2 linked regions of the Homo sapiens genome follow. The protein of the gene in region 2 interacts with the protein of the main gene of each other region in a biochemical or structural test. Each region holds a gene or a part of one and is shown on either strand. Other genes may lie near its edges.

Region 1 (3,834 bases), on a different chromosome or scaffold from region 2:
TATCAACATAGGGCTAAATATTGTATGCATTCATATACTTCTAACTCAAAACTACTCAAAACTATTCATAGTATGGAGAACATGAAAATGTTATTAACACACTGTTAAGTGAAAAAAGTATACAAAAATTGTATGTTTACTATAAGAAAAATTTTGTTCATAAAAATATGATATATGGATAAATGTCTGCTTTCAGTAAGGGCAGAGTAACGTGGACTGGATTTATCCTCCCTCCTTAAACAACTAAAAAGAAAAAATAAATACAGAAAACAATGGTTACAGACACTGGACTACAGGCAGCATGGAGCAGTGATCCCTGGGGAAAGGGAGGAGAACAACATATACCCTCTGACTGCCCCATCTTATTGCCTGGAAAGCTTCCAAGTGACAGTACAGAGACAGGAAACTTAGGTGGAGCCTGGGAGTCAGCCTGAGTAGAAAAGGAGTTGGGAGTTTTGGGGGATCGAGACAGCTAAAATTTGCAGAGCAGAGTAACAATGAGGAGAAAGCTGTATAAACAGAGAGCTTCAGAGATTTATAGAAGCAACCTCCTCAAGTCTTCAGTTGAGTACTGATCAGTGCAGGCATGTGAGGAAACTACCTAAGGCTGGAAAAAGAATTGCCCAAAGTGAGCAGGCAGAACAATCCCCTTAGTTCACAGAGCCGGAAAGAATTGATTTATCATCAGCAGATTGACACTACAAAAAATATTAAAAGAAGTTCTTTAGGCAAAAGGAAAATGATACCAGATAAAAATCTGAATCTATACACAAAGGAATGAACATTTACAAAAATTGGTAAATGTGGATAAATATTTTTCTTATTTTTAAATCATACTGTTTAAAGTAAAAATCATAACATATTGTGGAAACAACAAAAGTAGAAATAACATGAATCACAACAGTAGCACAAAAGGCCAAGCTAGTAGAGGGGAAATGGAAAAGGAAGTATAAGATTTTTATACCATACGCGAAATGATAAGTAGTCCTTACTTTGCATGGTACTGTGTTAACTGAAACTTGGGCACATCAAAACTGTGACCTTCACTGGCAAAGTAACTGTTACCAAAAAATCATGCAAAGTGAAAAGATTCTTGTATGCACAAATTTTAGTAAACACAGTATTGTACAAAGTGAGAATAGTTGACAATAAGATATATATTATGAACCATAAAACAATCACTACAAAAACAAAACAAAAAAGGCATAGCTAATAAGCCTACAAATAAGATAAAATGGGATCATAAAAAATTATCCAAAATAAGGCAGGAAGGAGAGAAGAATAGATGGTAGATTTAATTATAACCATAGCAATAACTGCATTAAATGTAAACGGTCTAAACACCTGCACTAACAAGCAGAGATTTTCAGAATGGATTTTTAAAAAGCAAGAGAGACAAGAAATCCATGTTAAATATAAACACAAATAGATTAAAAATAAAAGGATGAAAAGATATACGTTCTAATAACAATCAAACGAAACAGGAGTAGCTATATTAACATCAAACTTTGGGCAAAGCCTATATCCAGGGATACCATCATAATGATAAAGGGTCAATTCATTAAATGCATAACAATCCTAAATATTAATGTACCAAATAAAAGAGCTTCAAGATACTTGAAGAAAAAACTGATAGGACTTCAAGGAGAAAGTCAAATCTACAATTATCGTCAAGAGAGGTCACCCTCTTTCTCTCTTAATAACTGATAGAGCGAGTGTACAGAAAATCATAAGGAAATAAGTGACGCGAACACCACTATCAGCCAATCTGACTTAATTACACCTAACAATAACAGAATACACACTCTTCAAGTGCACACACAACATTTACCAGATAGACCATATCCTGGGCCAAAATTAAGGCTCCATAAATTTAAAAGGATTCAAATTATAGAAAGTATGTTCTCTGACCACATGAAATTAAATTAGAAATCAGTATCAGAAAGTCGTCTGGAAAACTCCCAAAATATTTGGACACAAAATAACATACTTAAATTATTCTTGGGTCAAAGGTGAAATCAAAATGAAAATTAGCACCAATAAATTTCAAAACTTAGAGGAAATGGCAAATTCCTTGAAAGACACAAACTACTGAAGCTCACTGAAGAAGAGTTATCTATGTCTATTAAAATAATTTTGTAGTTAAAATACATGAGGTCCTCTCACAACAGTTTTTCAGCTGTACTGTGACTGGCTCATTTCTTTCATAAAGTTTTTTTTTTTTTTTTTTTTTTTTTGAGACAGAGTCCTATTCTGTCACCCAGGCTGGATTGCAGTGGCACAATTCTGAGTTCAAGCAACCTCCGCTTCCTGAGTTCAAGCAATTCTCCTGCCTCAGCCTCCCGAGTAGCTGGGATGCCACCAAGCCCGGCTAATTTTTATATTTTCAGTAGAGACAGGGTTTCGCCATGTTGGCCAGGCTGGTCTCAAACTCCTGACCTCAAGTGATCTGCCTGCCTTGGCCTCCCAAAGTGCTGGGATTACAGGCATGAGCCTCCACATCCAGCCTCTTTCATGAAGTATCTTTACTTTCCTGAAGTTTCTAATATTTCTAAAGTTTCTATTTTTTTCTTAAGTTTCTTATTTTTCTGAAGTCTATTATTTTCTCAGTTTACTAGTCAAAACTGTATGAACAGTATGATCACAACTATGATAAAAAACAGTGCACAAAATAAGAAATCTGCTAGTTGATAGAGGCTATCTTTGGGTACTACAGACTGATTTGTCTCATTAAGTAGCTTTACCTTTCTGCCATTCGTAATTTTTCTAAAGACTACCATTTTCTAAGTTTACTATAATGAGCATTTATTTTTTGGTGGAAAAATATTTAAAAGATGACTTCACACAGTAACGCAGATTTTTCTAAAATATTAAGGTCTCCTGTCATATTCCTATTACAGGTTGAGCATCCCTAATCTGAAAATCCGAAATCCAAAATGCTCCAAAATCCAAAACTTTCTTAGCAACAAGACACTCTAAGGAAATGCTCACAAGAGCACTTCAGATTTCAGATTTCCAGATAAGGGATGCTCAACCCATACATTATCTGCAAGTATTCCAAAATCCGAAATCCAAAACACTTCCAGTCCCAAGCATTTAGGATACTCAATCTGTATGTTTTTCTTTATATTATTGCTTTTGTTATTTATATTACTGCTGAATACTGATGGCAATTGTTTTAGAATTGTAATAAGTACTAAAAAAAAGTGTCCATAATTAATAAGAACAGTATTGCTTCTTTCGATAATACAAGCCTTATTATGTACAAGCTATCTAAGAATGATATGAGAAAACAAGCAAAAACTAATTTTACACAGTCAGGTAAGAAAAAGAAAATGTTAACAGTGCCATATTTCAATAAATCTATGTATGGCAAATTAGATTCCATTTAATGAAGTAAAAATTAAAATGTGAGAATTATCTTAAAAGTTTCATGTTACTGAACGGAATACTTCAGTATCTTTTTTTTTTTTTTTTTTGAGACAGGGTCTCATTCTGTCGCCCAGGCTGGGGTACAGTGGCACAATCATGGCTCACTGCAGCCTTGACCACCTGGGCTCAATCAATCCTCCTGCCTCAGTCTCCTGAGCAGCTGGGACTACACTTGCATACCACCATCTCCAGCTAGTTTTTTGTATTTTTTGTAGAGATGGGGTTTTGCCATGTTGCCCATACAGGTGTGAGCCACCATGCCCGGGCAATAATATCTTCAATAACGAAAAGCTAATAAATTATATGTGATCTTCCCTACATTCTTTCTGTGACATATAGTATAAAACCAATCACAGCTACCCTTCTGGAGACATCTGGAATTTGTAACAACAATCCGTCTTC
Region 2 (3,022 bases):
TTAAAACTAATCAACCTGACATAACTTCCTAATTCCAGGAATGTAACATAATTCAAGCTTCAATTTTTCACTCAACATATTCTGTTTTACTAAAAGGATTTCCCACCTTACAACTATGAACAAGAAAAAATTTGTACTTAAAATAATATTAAAATGCAAGATCTCATTATTTAGTACAAGATTAATAGACTATAATTCTAATCTTAAAAATATCTATAGATGCAACTTCTCCAACTTGTTAATTCCCAAAGAGATTAATAAAAGATGTAATTAACATCTAAACTTAGAGCAGACTATCATGTGGAACAAACTATTTTAACAAGAACTGCACCATAGTCAAATAGATCAACCACACACATCACCCTTTATGGTTCTGAATAAGGTTAATGAGCACAATTTGTCATAAATTTTCCCATAACTCTGAGAAACTGAATTGAATAAAAAGACTATTTTTTTCTTAACACCTTATAAAGATAGGATAAAGGCCGTAGTTATCGTCTTTGGAACGTTGCACCTAGCACTGTATCTGGCAATATAAATGTCATTAAGTATATTTGTCAAAAGAATAAACAAACAACAAGCAAATAAGCAACCCAATGCACTACAGCCATTCAGCTCCTTATTACGTGCTAAGTATTTAAAATTATACATAATAAAATGGAATATACTCAAACTTTTATTTCTACCTAATAATGAAAGAATTACTCACTTAAAAGTTACACAATTTAACAGAACGTAGAGGTGCACTTTCATAAACCAATAACTTAGCTAAAACCAATAATGATTTTCTGCAATTGTATAACATTTTTCATTTAAGCTGTTTTTCTTTTATGAAATTAGAAAATATACAGAAATCCAAATAAATTTCTTTGCAATAAATAACACAAAGACAGGTACACTACACTTGATCTTAACAGTAACACATTTCTCTCATGAAGAGGTTATTTTTAAAAATAGCTAGAAATTTGGAGACAAAGGCAAAAAAAGGAGTAAAATAACTATAAATGTTCACTAATGTTCTTCCACTTCAAAAACTGACATCAGAGACAGAAAAGACCTTCTGCGTCTATCAGTGACTTCCTCTTCATGTGTCATAGAAAGAGTTCAACATGCTTTACAAAATCCATTACATTTTAAGACCATTTCCAATATCTGCTATCATAAATCAAGAAATCCATTTATTCAAGGTTACTTATGGAGAATTAATCACACAGAAAATTTTAACAACTCCTTTTTCAAAAATTAAAGTACTTTACTATACTTGGCATTCCTACACATAATGATATGGATTCAAACACTGAAAGCATTAAGGGCATATAATTAAAATTCATGGGCTTAGACATTTAAAAAAAGGTTTACTATGTAGTACTCTCTGTAACTAATATTCCAGAAAAATAAACCACAATACAAACACAGTGTAATCTCCTTTGGACTTCTCATCTGCTTAAGTGGCATTAGGTAACTTAAGAAGTTGTTCCAAAACACTTGTATGTACTTGATACAGCCTCAAAAACATGAAATAAAAAAAATCTGAAAAAAAATGAGATGAAAAGAACTGTGGACACCATGCATCAGGAACAAAAACTCAAGAATTTCTCTATTTGTGATGACTTCTAAAACCTATCTTCCTAATTTGGAAGGCAAATTTACTCAAAAGATAAAAATACACAGGTCAGTTATACAACATTTTCAGCCTTTATTGAGAGTACAGTCATCATGCCAAAATTCATCCATCAACATACAACCTTATTTCCCATCTAAAGTTAATGAGAATGTATTTTATTTTAAATGGGACATAGAGGCAACATGCCAAGAATTAAAGTACAACCATAAAGTTTTAGTTTCACACTTTGAATATCAACAAAGCAGTAATTCCTAAAATCATGAAAACATGATAAAGTATCTATACAGAAAAAAATGAACATTTAAGTCATTTCACGCTTTCTTAATATCATATAGTGAAAACAGATGTACCTATAATTTCAGCCTACAGATAGCATACTTCATAAGGTCATTATTCATTTAAAATAGTACAAATGTTTACAAAGAACATTTCACTTAAATTTCACAGCTGCTTATAAAATGGTACTTGCAAGACTGACCTATATAAAGAAATAAGAGTCTCATCAAGAGATGGTAAATTATAAATATATAATATATCACAATGTTAAAATCCTCAGTGCTAATCAATAAAGATAATGATCTTTGGAGAGGAAAGTATTTAGCTTTACATATTTACTGTGAATTTACATATTAATAAGAAACACATTTAAACCTTGCCCTGCCACAGAATTATTTTGCGGGGGGGGGGGGGGGGGGGAAGATGTACTTTTTGAATATGTGTACATCAAAACCAAAAAGTTAACTTTTACTTTTTCCTTTATTGGCAACTTTTGATGCATTTTTCGATTTTGGTTCCCAGAGGGCATTTTTTACAAATCTTGAAGCTGCACCTCTGTCCAGCTTGCCAGCCTTTTTCTTGTCTGTTATTTCCTTGACTCTGTTCATATATACTCTGATTCTTTCCTTAAAGATAAAAAACAAAGGCAATAGATTTACTAAGCTATTCGCCACCACTGAATTTTATTATACTGTACACCTTGGTTAAATTCAACATATATGTATTTATTGCCTATTAAAGTGCATGGTGCTAGGAAATGCAAATGAATAGGATAAATACGCTCCCTGCTTGCCTGGAGTTCATAGTCGGAGGGTGGGGAAAGACAGATGTTAAAAAGTCATTTCAGAAGTCTTCTGTTTCCAAAGAGTTAGAATCACACTAAGACATTACTCCAGAAATAAACATCGAATTGAAAGTTTCTAGGTGGTTATACATTTTTGAAAAACACCATTAACATAAATCTACATATTAACTGTTTTGTATCTAAAGTAAAAAACCGGAGCTTTCATATACTTGCAAAATACAAACTAAATTCTCCTGAAATTTTTCTAAACAGGAAATACATGAGGTAGTACTTAACTATCTTTTCACATTACCATCTAGTGTAACAATTAGGGAGAA

Evidence for each region.
Region 1: the proteins of C1D (region 2) and TSNAX form a complex in vitro, tested with the Homo sapiens proteins (one study listed by BioGRID).

The regions. Positions count from the first base shown.
Region 1 is NC_000001.11:231,538,577-231,542,410, reverse strand, and holds part of TSNAX (translin-associated protein X), read right to left. Parts: intron 1-3,834.
Region 2 is NC_000002.12:68,040,528-68,043,549, forward strand, and holds the end of C1D (nuclear nucleic acid-binding protein C1D), read right to left. Parts: intron 2,527-3,022; coding exon 2,362-2,526; 3' UTR 603-2,361; downstream 1-602. UniProt on the Homo sapiens protein: Plays a role in the recruitment of the RNA exosome complex to pre-rRNA to mediate the 3'-5' end processing of the 5.8S rRNA; this function may include MPHOSPH6.